3 separate regions of the Homo sapiens genome follow, and all the other regions are linked to region 1. The links come from fine-mapping of genetic effects on gene expression. A gene starts in region 1. Each other region holds a variant in brackets. All regions are shown on one strand. Distances are between the middles of the regions. Region 1 holds the start of DNER (delta/notch like EGF repeat containing). Region 2 has its middle 35 kb from the start of DNER. Region 3 has its middle 210 kb from the start of LINC01807.

Evidence for each region. PIP is the estimated chance that this variant, and not a neighbour inherited with it, causes the effect.
Region 2: its variant is the best candidate, but not a certain one, in a credible set for the expression of DNER in blood mononuclear cells (TOPMed, PIP 0.73).
Region 3: its variant is the best candidate, but not a certain one, in a credible set for the expression of DNER in pancreatic islets (PISA, PIP 0.51).

Annotation. Positions count from the first base shown.
Region 1 is chr2:229,711,505-229,716,731 of GRCh38, reverse strand. DNER (delta/notch like EGF repeat containing) reads left to right here and starts at 2,177. Exons shown (of 13, transcript NM_139072.4): 1 at 2,177-2,584. The coding sequence starts at 2,309. RefSeq lists enhancers at 721-1,494, 1,495-2,269 and silencers at 2,107-2,166, 2,237-2,346.
Region 2 is chr2:229,746,999-229,752,225 of GRCh38, reverse strand. No RefSeq gene overlaps it. Among named protein-coding and RNA genes, the nearest start is that of DNER, 35 kb to the right of the region's middle. The variant T/C (reference allele first, on the strand shown) is at 2,192.
Region 3 is chr2:228,823,759-228,828,985 of GRCh38, reverse strand. No RefSeq gene overlaps it. Among named protein-coding and RNA genes, the nearest start is that of LINC01807, 210 kb to the right of the region's middle. The variant A/C (reference allele first, on the strand shown) is at 3,020.

The DNA.
Region 1 (5,227 bases):
ATCTTGCAGATGGTTGAAAAGCTGTCAGTAAAGTACCAGATCAGCTTTCGGAATCTACAGAAAAGACCCATTTCTCTGAGCGTGGTAACAGTAATAATAGTTAACACTTTCATGGCACTTAGTACATGGATGTTTTGGGACCAGGACATGCAAATCAATATGCTTTTTCCCCAGCATTAATCATGTTGCTCTGCCTATAAGCTAAGGTGCTGGAAGATTATAGTTTTCCTTTTTAGCCTGGAAAAAATGAAAGGATCTTGTATTGTCTCTGCCATAATATGCATTTTAAAGATTAAAGACTAAGAGAATACTTTTAGCAAGGAAAATTATCTGAAACATGCAGTAACCAGCATCCAGAAAATAAAACCACTTTTAATTATCCTATATTTCAAAATAATATGAAATACACAAACAAAGGGGTTGCTCAGGCAAAAGTACAATAAACTGAAATGTGATTTTAATTAACTCACAACCTTTTTACACTTCATCTTGCTTCATTTGTGTGTGTGTCTTGATGGAAGGCAATGAAGAGCACTATCCACTAGTCCAGGATTTAAGGTAAGAGAAGTTAGTTTCAGGAAAGAACGCAACTCCAGGGGCACAGAAACCACCTGAATGACGACACTAGTACCAGCAGAGGGTGCTGGCGTGGCACAAAATTAAGAATTTTCAAGAGGAAGAGGTCTTAGATTGAAAGACAGCAGGTGTGAGGAAAAATGTAATAACTCTATCCACTTGGAGGTCTGAATTCTCCGCTTGCAGATCTGTCTGGGGTTCAGTGATTTCCTGCAATGGCCACATGAATTTTAGGTATCTCCTGAAGCAGAAAAGTGTGACATTTGCTTCTGCGTTTGAACAGGACAGGGAGAAGCCGTGCAGTTTGCCTTCTGTTTCCACTGGAGGACTTTTAGCAATCCCTGGCGTCTGTGACACCTACAGCAGAAGTTCACATGGAGTCCTTACTTTAATTTTTTTAAAAAACAAAACAAGCTATTTTTGTGTTTACTAAAAAAAAAATTGGCCCAGACTGTCAATCCAGGGGAATCACATTTTCTTTTTTCATTTGGCCACCTTAAAAAGAAGGTAACAGGTACCTGGGAACCCACAGGTAATAGAGATTGTGAAAGGTCAGGTGGAGGAGACAAGGCTGGATGCGCTTTATTCAGCGGAGTGCAGCCTCCTTGGCGGTCGCAGCACCAGCCAGCCCAGCCAGGACGTGTAGAAGAGCCCGCCCCCCCCATCCCCTCCGAAGTAGGTCACAGCGAATGCTCCTTTTATGCAGAGTCCCCTGTTGCGATTCCTGCCGCTAGCAGCGCCTCTGCCAACCTGGGCTTTTGAACTGTTCTTTCGGGCGTTCTGGGCTGGGAGTCAATTGACCCACTGGATTCGAATCCAGACTTTCTGGGCCTCAGTTTCCCCCTAGGTTCAACGACAGGGGTGGACAGCCTTACACCAAGGCCTCTTCCCGGCCTCACACGGCGCGGCCAGACGTTCCTTAGTGGTGCGGCAAGGCCCCGCGCTCTGGAAAGGGCCGGCGAGAATGAGACAGCTGGGTCAGCACCAAGGACAAGGGCCCCGGGTCCGCCTGGCGGAGGCGAGGTCACTTCCAGGCGAACCCGGCTGCTGAGCAAGCGTCGGGCGCAGGGTTCCGTGGCCGGGCGGGAGGGCTTGGGGTGCCGGGAGAAGCGCTGTGGGAAGGGGAGCAGTCCCGGGGGATGAGGCAAGGCCGGGCCCCGCGGCGGTCTCGCAGATTCTGCGCCAAGAGGCCAAAGGTGGCTGCTGCGAGCGCGCCGCCCCTCCCTTGAGGCGCCCTGCCGCCTCCCGCGCCCTGCCCTGCCCGGGCCTTGGGGCGCACTCGGTGCTCCCGGCTCTGGAAGCCCCTCAAAGCCCCGCTTCCCTCACTCGTGGACCTCTCCAGCCCCTTTCCTGCCCCAGCGTCGCCTGGCTCCCTGTACCAGGGCTGCTTCTGGACACACCCGTGACTTCGACCCACTCCTGGGGGATGGGGTCCCGCATCGTCTTCCTGCAACCCCCATCCCAACTCCCTGCGGGGAAAGAGGCCCCACTCCCCGATGCTCCAGAGCCGGGGCCGCCAGGCGCCCCGCCCCCCGCTCGCCCCGCCCCGCCCCGCCCCGCAGGCCCCGCCCGCCGTTGCCCGGGGAACCGCGGATCCCGCAGCTGCAGGAGGCGCCCGGCCCGGCGGAGCAGCCCTAGCCGCCACCGTCGCTCTCGCAGCTCTCGTCGCCACTGCCACCGCCGCCGCCGTCACTGCGTCCTGGCTCCGGCTCCCGCGCCCTCCCGGCCGGCCATGCAGCCCCGCCGCGCCCAGGCGCCCGGTGCGCAGCTGCTGCCCGCGCTGGCCCTGCTGCTGCTGCTGCTCGGAGCGGGGCCCCGAGGCAGCTCCCTGGCCAACCCGGTGCCCGCCGCGCCCCTGTCTGCGCCCGGGCCGTGCGCCGCGCAGCCCTGCCGGAATGGGGGTGTGTGCACCTCGCGCCCTGAGCCGGACCCGCAGCACCCGGCCCCCGCCGGCGAGCCTGGCTACAGCTGCACCTGCCCCGCCGGGATCTCCGGCGCCAACTGCCAGGTGAGTGGAAGCGGCGGGCGCGGTGCGGGGCGCTGGTCCGGGACCAGCAGCCTCTTCCCGCCGGCCCTGCTGCTGCTGCCCGACAATGGGCACGCCTGACACAGGCTTTCCCACTTTGGGAAGAAGATGGATCCAGTCTCTTGGCCCGCGTGGACGCGGACCCCCGGGCCGACCCTGATTCCCTTACCCGCCCTGGTTCCCGGGCGGGGCCAGCCGGGCTCTCGGGGTGTGCCGCTCCGGGGCTCGGCACTTCTCGCGCGGGGCTCTAGACGCTCCGGTTGGCCACTGAGTGGCGCGCCCCTCCAGGCCGGGCCGAGCCAAGAACCACTTGAGCGGTGCCCGCCTTGGCAGCGCGGAGGAGCCGGCTCCGAGCGTCCCCGGCGAGGTGTTCAATGTCCAGGTGGTCCACGCTCCACGTCCGGCTGGACCCTGTGTGTGTAAAGGGTGTGCGGTGTGGGAGGCAGGTGATGGTGGGCCCCGTGCCAGGTGGTGGGGCACTTTCTCCTTCTCTTCCTACGCCCTTGAGGGCTGTGACAAAGCAGCCAGAGGACGAGGAGGGCAGCTGCCTCCCCTCGGCCTGCGACCAGCCCTCTCTAAGCTTAGGAGCAGTGTTGGAACAGTCGGAGGCATTCGAGGGGGCATTGTACGTGGCGCTGGCAGGGCCGCCCTTCCTGCCGGACGCTCCACGGGGCGCACGCTTGGGGCTGGCAGCCGGGGCGTGAGCAGGGCACCGGGAAGCCGCCAGAAAGCGTGGGGGCGGTGCGAGGGATGGGACGATGGGATGTAGCCAGCAGCCGCCCGTGAATTTGGGGTTTTCAGGAGAATTTGGCAGAAAATAATATCTGGGGCTTTTACAAGTCCGTTAAAGCTCTGTGAAACCTATTAACATCAACATTTCCAGTAGGCAATTTGGTAGGACTGTGTGTACGGGTAGAAAATCCCCAAACCTGTATTGCAGGGTAGGGCAAATAATGAAGTTATCTGAAATGATTACATTAAACCACATGAATATGGACGATATTTGGGATCAGATACTATCTTCCTTACATTTAGGGTGGAGGAGTTTGTTTCATATAAATTTGATAACAATGATTGGAGAGTTACTTTGAGAATGCTCAAATAGGTTCTTTCAATGGGGAAAAAGGCTGCCCTTTCATTATGACAGGTTTTACATTTTTTAGAGGTAAATGGGATTGAGAAACTTGACCTTGACAGCCAGATTTTTTTGCATTTATCTAGAATCTTTTTATTTCATTTAATAGCAAATTAGCAAACTGAATCTATCTTTTCAACACTGTGCTCTTCCTCTTTGTTTACTGGTTACAATAAGCTTTAGTTACTTGAAGGGAGGTGATGAGGAGGAGGAAGAATTTGTGTGATGTGAGCCTCAGGAGTAGATTTGGGACATGATAGCTTCTTGGGGGAAATGCCTGTTGGAGCCATTCTAACCATTAGAACAAAATCTTGCTTTTGCAAAAGTCAAAATAACTGCAAATCAAAAACCAAGGAATGCACTCACGCTAATTTTCCCTGTGGATTGATGATTTATATGACTTTTCCTGAAGAAATGAATTGTCTGAGTGTGTCCATCAAACTGCTGTTATATTCACACGTCTGAATTTTATCCTTCAAAGAAATAGTTGATTTGGACCTAGGGTTTAGTGGGAATGGATGGGAGAAGGTAGGTTAGAGTGCCCATCGATTTACATGAGAAGAAAGACTCACTGGGAATTTAACACAACTCTGAGATGGTTTTTGGTGACTCTAAAAACAGATATAAGACATCTTCAAGAAAAAGAGCTCTTTAGTGCCACCTAAAGATGACTAACAGCGAAACATAAATATTTTGATTTGTCCTAAGTAGTGACTTGATGTATAATATAATTCATTCCGAAGAGTCAGGAACTAATACATAACATTGCAGGACCAACTGGATCAAAACAGATTCAGATTTCTTTTGTAGCTCCCATTGGAGGTAGGCTTAGCTGTGTGAACACCATCCACCTGAGCAGAAGCAATACTGCATGCCCTGGTGTGTGAGTTGGAGAGAGCGGTGAAGTTACTGTAATCCTCATAGGAAAGCTTAGTGAACTTGGAACTTGATTGGACTTGGTTACCCAGAAAAACTTACTGAGATGATTCAGGGCCTTACAATCCATAAAAATGGATTCCTGATGATTTTAATTTAATCGTTCATGATCTCGCAGTAAGACTTGAGACTCATTTTTCATGGGAACAGCAAAGAACACAAAAGACAATTTCAGAAGAGAAGTTAAACCTGGGGTGGTGGGGAGGGGAGGGGAGAGAGGGAGAGAGAAACTACACATACTCAATTACAGATAAGGAAATTGGATCTTAGCCACTGCAGACTATGTGGTTGCTGAAATAGAACCTTGTGCTCACTGGATAAATTGGAAATGGAATTTTACCTGGATGTAAAGAGGATCTTTTAACAGAGCGTCACTCCTCCTTCTCCAAAGACAATAGTGTTAGCAATGGTAACATTAGAACCTAACCTTGAAGTTTCTTTCTGTGTGTGGGGAAATTTTGAGAAAATCATAAACTACGAATTAGGATTAAAATGGCTGTCTTTAGGCTTTTTTAAAAAAGGATGTCTTTAGCTTTTCTGTGGTTGGCTGATTG
Region 2 (5,227 bases), 35 kb before region 1:
CCCCATCCTGATATTTTTCTTTCTTTCTTTCTTTCTTTTTGAGACGACGTCTTGCTCTGTTGCCCAGGCTGGAGTGCAGTGGCATGATCTTGGCTCATGGCAATCTCCACCTCCCGGGTTCAAGCGATTCTCCTGCCTCAGCCTCCTGAGTAGCTGGGATTACAGGCACTCACCGCCATGCCCAGCTAATTTTTGTATTTTTAGTAGAGACGGGGTTTCACCATGTTGGTCAGGCTGGTCTCAAACACCTGACCTTGTGATCCACCCTCCTTGGCCTCCCAAAGTGCTGGGATTACAGGCCTAAGCCACCGCGCCCGGCCGACATTTTTCTTCTTAAGGACACCTCACACAGTTCCCTAAATACCCAGTGGCCTTCCTGTCATATCCCTTTGATATGATGCCAAGATTCCTCCTTGCTTTCCCTCAAATACCTGATATCTTGTCACAGATTTATATGTTCCCTCTTCTCATGGTAGTACTTACACCAAAAGAATGATATCCTGTGTGGTCTGGCTGACACATACCGGTGTGAGATGCTCTCTGGTTATAGACACTTAACCTGCGTCCTCAGAGTCAGAGACTGTGTTCACTTTCTTGGCCACCTCTTCATACCGTTAGTTAATGTTGAGCCTGGGGTTGATGTCACCTCTCAATCTACTTTTCCCAGCTCAATGTTTCCAACTGTCTGTGACCCATTTTATTTTATTTTATTTTATTTTATTTTATTTTATTTTATTTTATTTTTGAGAAAGAGTCTGTCACCCAGGCTGGAGTGCAGTGGTGCAATCTCAGCTCACTGCAACCTCTGCCTCCTGGGTTCAAGTGATTCTCATGCCTCAGCCTCCCAAGTAGCTGGGACTACAGGCGTCTGCCACCAAGCCCAGCTAATTTTTGTATTTTTAGTAGAGAGGGGGTTTCACCATGTTGGCCAGGCTGGTCTCGAACTCCTGACCTCAACTGATCCACCTGCCGTGGCCTCCCAAAGTGCTGGGATTACAAGTGTGAGCCACCACGCCCGGATGTGTGATCCACTTTAGACCTCATTCCTGGGCATCTTCGAAGTTTACAATGTAAACTTTTCTTCTTAATAAGTAAAGATAATGACAGCATTTGTGGTAGGCACAGAGAGAAATTTCTATTCTCTGTGGGAGGCAGAGCAGCAGGTAGGCCATAGAGCTCAAGCTTCAGAGGCAGATGAGTGGGCTCATGCCTGGCAGGGCTGGGTACCAGTTGCACAGCCTTGGGGAAGTGACTTTGCTCACCTTTCCTCACCTGAAGGCTGAGAATACTGAGAATGCACTCCTCACGATTAAATGACATCATTTAAATAAGCTGATTTAGGTAGGAACTGACTAGACAAAACATACGTCTCTGCAAAACATTTGATAAGGCCTCTGAAGATATCCTTGTAGGTAAGGGAAGAAATATTGTTTCTACCAACTCCCTATCTCTTGAGATGGAAATACTTGACCAACATGAATTCATCTAAACACACTAGAGGGTGGTTAGAACAGTCCTCATAGTAAGCACTCAGTACCTGCTAGCACTTATTGTTTTTAGTCATTTTTATACTATTTTTCCAATTTGCAGTATTTCTCCCTCACCTCCTCTTCCTCTCTCCTTTCATTCCCTCTACAACCTCCTCACCATAATGCTATTGTAATAGTCAGTTCCTATGGTGCTATACAGAAATACCTGAGGCTGGGTGCATGGCTAATGCCTGTAATCACAACATTTTGGGAGGCTGAGGCAGGAGGATTGCTTGAGCCTGGGAGTTCAAGACCAGCCTGGGCAACATGTTGAAACCCCATCTCTACAAAAAAGTAAAAAAAATTAGCCAGGTGTGGTGGCACGCACTTGTAGTCCCAGCTACTCAGGAGGCTGAGGTGAGAGGATCACTTGCGCCCAGGAGGTGAAGGCTGCAGTCAGCTGTGTTCATGCCACTGCACTCCAGCCTGGGTGACAAAGTCTCAAAAAAAAAAAAAAAAAAAAAAAGAAGAAGAAAAGAAAAAAAGAAAAAAAATCTGAGACTGGGTAATGTATAAAGAAAAGAAGTTTAATTGGTTCATGGTTCTGCAGGGTAGGCAGGAAGCAGCCCCCTGGTCAGGGCCTCAGGAAGCTTCCAGTGCTGGTGGAAGTGGGGTCAGGAGTCTCACATGGCGAGTGAGGAAGTGAGAGAGGGAAGGGGGAA[T/C]CTCCAAACTTGTAAACAACAAGATCTCATGTGAGCTAACTGAGGCAGAGCTCACTCGTCACCAAGGGGCTGGTGCTGAACCATTCATGCGGGACCCGCCTCCATGACAAAATCACCTCCCAGCAAGCTCCACCTCCCACACCAGGGATCACATTTCAACATGAGATTTAGAGGGGACAAATATCCAAATTATACCAGCTACCTACCCCACGGACACCTAGAATATTAATGTTAGAAGTACCCCGTGTTTTTCTTCTGTACCTATCTTCTTCTTCTTTTTTTTTTTTTTTTTTTTTTTTTTGAGATGGAGTCTCGTTCTTTCACCCAGGCTGGAGTGCAGTGGCGAGATCTTGGCTCACTGCAACCTCTGCCTCCCAGGTTCAAGCGATTCTCCTGCCTCAGCCTCCCCAAGCAGCTGGGATTACAGGTGTGCACCACCATGCCTGGCTAATTTTTGTATTTTTAGTAGAAATGGGGTTTCACCATGTTGGTCAGGCTGGTCTCGAACTTCTGACCTCAGGTGATCTTCCCACCTTGGCCTCCCAAAGTGCTGGGATTACAGCCATGAGCCACCACGCCCAGCCTTCTTCTGTACCTATTCTTTCCCCAAGTCATGTCAGGCCCCAAAACTTAGGTACTGTTGAGTTTTGGGGCCTGACATGACTTAACATTGTCTATGTTAAATAGATGTTGTTGAATGTGGCCCACTGTCCAAATGTATCAAAATCTTTTGAGGTCCTGACTTGGTCATGACACACATTTATCTATTATCTCTCCTGATTTTAAGTCTCTCACACATTGTGTCAATGTGAGAGGGATGCCAGTGGGAATGGGAGCCACCACAGGACAGGACACACACAGAACTGTCTCCTCCTCAACGGCACCACCTCCTGGGGATTAGGATATTTAACTGGCTAGGACTCCAACCAAATGCACTATATACATCAGCTTCTATTTCTCCATTTCGTCTACAAAGCTCTCACAAGAGGCCTAGAACCTGGCAAACTTTTTGCAGAAATTCTCTTAGGAGCCCCATCTAAAAGGAAATGAAGTCAAGCCAAGACCAGATTTGTTCACGGCAGGCCTGTGTTGGCTTCCAGGGATCAATGCGTTCTTTTATGAAGACTGAGACGTCAGCCCAGAGTTAGCATCTGTCTACCTGTGGTGGATGCCTCCTCTGGAAGTTGAATCTGTGGGTACCAGTGTGTCCAGGATTCTGGCATCTGTTTCACTCTGTCACTGTTCACGAAATCAACAATAGTTTGGTAACCTCATCTGCATTTTTCTGCTAGTCCCTGGGTTGTAGTTACCTAGACTGGACACCCAAACTCCCAAACTTCTTCTATTTTTTTTTTTTTTTTTTTTTTTGAGACAGAGTCTTGCTGTGTTGCCCAGGCTAGAGTGCAGTGGCACAACCTCAGCTCACTGCAGCCTTTGTCTCCTGGGTTCAAGTGATTCTCCTGCCTCAGCCTCCCGAGTAGCTGGGATTACAGGCATGCACCACCACGCCTGGCTAATTTTTTGTATTTTTATTAGAGACGGGGTTTCACCATGTTGCCCAGGCTGGTCTTGAACTCATTAGCTCAAGCCATCTGCCCTCTTTGGCCTCCCAAAGTGCTGGGATTACAGGCGTGAGCCACCGTGCCCGGCCACACCCACGCTTCTTTAAGTGAATCAGATGGGCTTGCCCTGCCATTTCATCTTTCCTAGGTGCTCTTGTGCACTCTGATGAGACTTCCATCTGTCGCACTGGCCTGTACTGATCTGTCTATGTCTATTTTGACCTTAGTCTGTGAGCAACTAAACATGTCTTTCACAGTTTCCTCTTCTTTTTATTTCATTGCTTCACATAACTCCTGGAATATAATGAATGCTCAAAAGACACTGGTGAACTGAAATCAGCAATAATGGCCAACATCCATGGAGGGCTTATTATGTGACAGGAATTGTGCTACATGCTTTATACACAATCACATTTAATTCTCACAATAATACTATGAGGTAAATAGTATTATCCTTATCTCACAGGTGAGGCAGTTGAGGTGTAGAGAAGCTGGTTAATTGCCCAAAGTCATGCAGGGCGACAGAAACAAGATCCAAATCCAGGTAATTTGGCCCCAGGCCCTGAGTAAGTGTTAATGTTCATGAAATTCTGAGGGCAACAGGCTGTTAGTTCTTTCTGTTTTTCCTCTGACATAATGCTTTTTAAAAGTACTTTTTACCTACAAATTTTATGATTTGGATAAAACAGACCAATTCCTGGAAGGACACAAACTACCAAAATCCACACAAGGAGAAACAGGTGATCTGAATAGACTTACATCTGTTAAAGAAATTGAATTAATAATGAATAAACATCCAACAAAAAAAGAATTAGGCCCAGATGGTTTCACTGGTGAATTCTACCAAAAATTTACAGAAGAAATTATACCAACTCACCACAATCTCTTCCAGATAATAGGAGCAGAGGGAACACTTACTCATTCTTTGAGGCCAGCATTTGGCTGATACCAAAATAGCAAAACCAGAAAAAGACATTACAAGAAAGGAAAACTGTAGGTTAATACTTGTCATGAACATATATACAAAAATCCTCAACAAAATAGTAACAAATTGAGTTCAACAATGTATAAAAAGAATTATACACTGTGAACAAGTGGGATTTATTTCACATATGCAAGGCTGGCTCAACTTTCAAAAATCAATTAATATAATCCAGCACATCAACAGGCCAAAGAAGAAGAATCATATGATCCTACCAATTGATGCAAAGCAAGCATTTGATAAACTTCAACACCCATTTATGATAAAAACTAAAAAAGCTCTTAAAAAACTAGGAATGAAGGAACGTTTCTCACTTCCTTTTGTCTGTGTGTGGGGTTGGCGAGGATGCTTAAGATCTATTTCAATTTAACAATACAATACAGTATTATTAACAATAGGCAGCATGCTGCGCATTAGATCCCCTACTGGCATCACTATTTTTTTTTTTTTAAGAGACTACACGTGTGAATGAGCGTGGTGGCTCATGCCTGT
Region 3 (5,227 bases), 890 kb after region 1:
CCCCTTGGTTCTATTCAGATTATCTGGCAGCTCCCAGCTCTGAGTAGATACAAAGCCACATCCTTTCATATCTTTGCTTTGAAGGAGTCTGTGTTTTAAAATCTTCCTATATCCCTGCTGAGTAGGCTGAGCTAGAGGACATGAACAAGACCTTAAGGGCAAGATTTGATAATAAAACTCATGGTGGAATGGGACCCAGTCATTTATGGAGGGCAGTCATAGATGCTGTCTGCTTCCAGAGTGTTATGACACGGTCAGCATGTTTTTATGGTACATAGTGACAAAGACTCTCCCTGACCAAACTAGTCAGGCTTCTTTGAACCCTGTGCTCAACTAGGCCTTGGCCTTCCCTCCTGGCAGAATCCAGTATTAGCAAGAATCCTGCTAGGTCAGTTTAGCAAGAGCCCTCACGCCCTTGATCTCTGATCACCCTGGCCTGCTCTTAGCAAGAATCCTGTGTGGTCAGTCCAACAAAAATGCCCCCTGTCCTTGATGTCTCCTGTTAGTAATTTTCCCTCTGCCAACATCCATCCCCATCCCACCTGCTCCTTGGCTAGAGATTTCCACTTTTTCTTGTATTTGAAGTGGAGCCCCATCTCTCCCCGGTTGCTTGCTACAGTCTTGACACCTATTGCAATAGTCCTGAATAAAGTCTTGAATGAAGTTTTCCTTACCATTTTAGCAAGTGTCGGAATAACTTTTCTTTAACAATTGAAGTGGTTCAAGGAGTTGGAAATGAGGTGACCTGAGCCTAAAGTGGATCCTGGTTTGTCCAGAAGTTTCTTGTTTTTTTTTTTTGCACTAAAAAGCTACTTCTAAGAGACTAAAGCTCTAGGCTCTGGAACATTCAGAAATAGTTTGTTGTGTAAGCCACCAAGTCTATGGCATTTTTGTCATAGCAGCTGGAGCTATGACAGTGTGTAAACTTTGTCTTTTCATGATTGAATTAATGTGAGTATTTTATGTGCAGAATGTGTTGTGGTGTAAGAATGGAGATGGTGAGCAAAGAAGCTAAGGGCTCCAAGATGAACACTTTTGTACACTTCTGACTGCTGTAGAAACACATCGCTTATCTGAACTGTCAGTACCTCGGACTCTTTACCAGGGAAAAAGGATTGGCAATTTGTTTTGATCATCACACTGAATAGCAGTGGAAAATGCCTAATAATTTTGAACTGAGATGTAAGGTTGATAGGATAAAAACAGGAGGGGAGCTTAGGCATCCAAAGACATTATCAAACTAGAATTAAAGAAAACACAAGTAACGGACCAAAGGCTTTAGAGGCGCTACAACATGCAGTTGGTTGCTTCACATGAATAACTTTCTCCTTCCCTCTCCCTCTTCCAGTCTGAACCTCATCTGACTTATTTGCATTTTGATCCCAAAGGGAAGATCTCAATGTTTAGAAAAATCCCTCATTTTTTGCTGTTACTCATAAATGATCAATAGCCACAATAATGAAAAACATAACAGGAAGTTCTTTTTGGCAGTCATTCCTAACAATTTCGGGACGACTGCTCAGCTGTTTATGATACAAAGCTGTTTAATTTTGGGAAACTGTAACACAGGTAAAATATGGTCTCAAAATGAAGTGATTGAGGCTTTTGAATGTTTTTTAACTCTACGGTTGGCCTTTTTAGACTCACAGGCACTGAACTCCTTATCAGCCTGTTTTAGACACCAGTCAAACCAGTTGTGTTTTAAAATGCATCTGGCAGGCATTATAACCATACTAAGATGACTTCATTCTAACAGTCCTGCCTCAGGCAGAAGGTTGCTTCCTGAAATGCTCTGGCAATTACAGAATCTTAATACTATATTCACTTAGACAAAGTGTCTCTCTTTTTCAGATATACATATTTATTAATTCCCAAAAGTCTACAATGGTAAGTCAGCCCCCTACTTTCATTCTCTTGGAGACTGAATATTTCCTGACCACCTGCTCTAAATCAGAAGACTGAGTAACCTTCTAATAACACATCAGTTACCCACTTCTGAGGCCTCTTTGATTCCCAAATTTCAGTGTGCATCACCTGCACAGCTTGTCAGATCATGGTTTCCTCAGTCTCATTGCAAGATTTTGTTTTAATAGGACAGAGTTGGGTCCTGAGACTGATTTTCTAACACATTCCTCAGTGATGCTGACACTAACTGTCCATGAACCATGACGTGGAAGACACCAAAAGGACTTTCCATCTTGGACTTGAAGTGATAGTAGGCTATGAATCCTCATCCTGAGGGTTCGTGAAAGCCTGTTCCAAGCAGCGTACGTGGGCACCATGACCCGCACTGCCATACCATTTTTACTTGTACTGCCATCCCAGTAACATACTCTGCTGCAGGAGCCAAGAGTTAGCAGCAGTGTTAAATATCAAGTTTCCCATGGCCCTGGTCAGACAAGTTCCAAAGCTCATGGTGAGATACAGGGCTCTCTGGGCACATACTAGGGATCAGGGCTACATTTTTACAAATTGGTTGGTAAGTCAAAGAAGTAGCCCAGTACAGAAATAGGATGATGAACTCCTTGTGATTTCATTTTTTAAAGACCCACAGGAAGTATACACTCACACATATGCCTATGAAATTATATAAATACATATATACATATATAATCGTATTTAATAATGTATATACACATACAATCATATATAAATACACAATACCTATATAACCATTTAATATATACGTATGCTATCATATGTGTGTGCACACATACGCACCACACACACACAATTAACCCATTAATGCACTTTCACACACATCCATCTTTAAGTTGATGGAACATTTTTTCCCCTCTTATTTATTAGATGCTCATTGCCATTTGTGTCTTAATTTCCTCTTCAAAGCTGCCTTTAATAGTCACCTTTTAAAAATATGTTTCATGTATAAAGATGCTGAGCAGGCTCACGCCTGTAATCACAGCACTTTAGGAGGCGGAGGTGGGCAGATCACAAGGTCAGGGGATCAAGACCATCCTGACGAACACGGTGAAACCCCGTCTCTACTAAAAATACAAAA[A/C]AATTAGCCGGGTGTGGTGGCGGGCGCCTGTAGTCCCAGTTACTCGGGAGGCTGCGGCAGGAGAATGGCGGCGTGAACCCGGGAGGCGGAGCTTGCAGTGACCCAAGATCGCGCCCCTGCACTCCAGCCTGGGTGACAGAGAGAGACTCTGTCTCAAAAAAAAAAAAAAAAAAAAAAAAAAATGCTGAGCAGTTTGGGGCTAGTGGTGTGGTACAATGTGATATTGCTTGCTGGGCACTTTCTATCAGGGCACCTGACACTGGCAGAGAATGGCTACCATGTCCCTATTCTATGTGAGAGGAAGCCTAGAGGAAGAAGCTGGTCTCTGAATTCTTGCCTCAGGCCTATAGGAAATGTTAACTCCACTAAAGGAAAAATTCTGATAGGAAAGGGATGTCCTTCTCTCTTGAATGTCATCAGAAGGAGAAGTAGGAGCCCCCTAACCTACCTGTTATTCAGAATATGACAAAGGAACATTTTTCCCAAGGATATTATGTCAGAGACATGACTGTTCTCAACAGTATTGTTTTCAACTATTTTCTTAGAGTGCACGAAGGGTCATTTTTATTGGTTCTCAATGTAAACCAGGGTCATAAAGCCAAAGTGCAATTTAGTGAATGCAATTTGATAGAGGAAAGAATTGGAGAATTTCTGAGATTATTGATATTCTTCTATCTGTTGCCCTCTTCCTTGTAAATAGTCCATTTCAGCAACAAAGGTGAAGCCATGGATAGGCTAGCTCTCAGTCCTTTCTTGACATTTATAAAGCTGGGCTGCTTTGTGTGAAGGTCAGGCGGTCTTCCTTTCGGTATGGATTCATGTCTGGCTTCTCCGCTTTCATAAGAGTCCATCAAGTCAAGGCTTAGCTCTGCTCTCTTCCAAGGAGTTGTCAGGGACTAAAAGCCCAAACTCGCTGCTCCCAGTTCAGAGAACCTTATTTGTAGACAACTTCCTAAAGAATATGCTTTTGCCTTTTTCTCTAGACTGTCTAAAATTTGTCTTTGATTCAGTAGCACCACCAGAGAGCTGTTAATATATTAAGATGCTGGTAAAACTATTTCAACTTGACAATACTTCTTATTTGTTGGCTATTATTTTGTTGCCTAATTTAAGACATATCAGTAAGAGCAGAAGGGGTCTACTTATCCCACTGGTTTCATCAGCATCAAAAATAAAGCTCTGAATGGCATTCTTGAGAATTCTGTGATTTAAAATGTTCTCAGAATTCTCTCTTTGTAAGTGAATCATTGACTTAATGAAAATTAAACTGTAATTGTATTTCTAAGTCTATCCAGTGAATACTTATTAAGGCAGTTACATTTATGTTTATGAATTAGGAATTTAACCAATAGCAGTTTTATTGTGCAACTCATGAAACCGAGGGCTCTACATGGACCTCTCTTGGTACAAAATCATATTCATTGAGACTTCAACATGGTATAATACCTATAATTGTAGAACTGCAAATTTTAAGGCTTTTGGAAAAAAACATGCTAAAAGGGAAGTTCATCCTTTGTGCATAGTAAACTTTCTCCCAATTATCAGCTTTCTTATATTCTTGAAAGAAACAACAATGACAGGCTGCGCATGGTGGCTCATGTCTGTAATCCCAGTAGTTTGGGAGGCTGAGGCAGGCAGATCACGAGGTCAGGAGTTCAAGAACAGCCTGGCCAACATGGTGAAAACCCGACTCTACTAAAAAATACAAAAATTAGCCAGGCATGGTGGCACTCTTCTGTAATTTCCGCTACTTGGAAGGCTGAGGCAGGAGAATTGCTTGAACCTGGGAGGCGGTGGTTGCAGTGAGTGGAGATCGTGCTGCTGCACTCCAGCCTGGGTGACAGAGCAAAACTCTGTCTCAAACAAACGAACAAACAAACAAAGAAACAACAATGACAACAAACCCTCTTCATTGTTCTCTTCTCTCTGCCTTTCCAAGCCTCCTGTTCCCAGCTTGGGGGCTGTCTTCCCCTCTCTTCCCATGCAGACCCCTCCCCACTGCAGTGCTCTCAGTCCTCCCTTTCAACAAGGGGCTGGTAATTAGAGGAAGATTCCAACACCTGACTTTTCCCATTGGGTACAGCCACCTAAAAATTGCAATTCTTCACCAGTTCCAACAGCTTTTCAGAAAGGAGAGCCCATCTGGTATTCTGGAGAATATTCTTTTTTTCCAGTGGAATAATTTGTATATCCATCCTACAGGGTTGC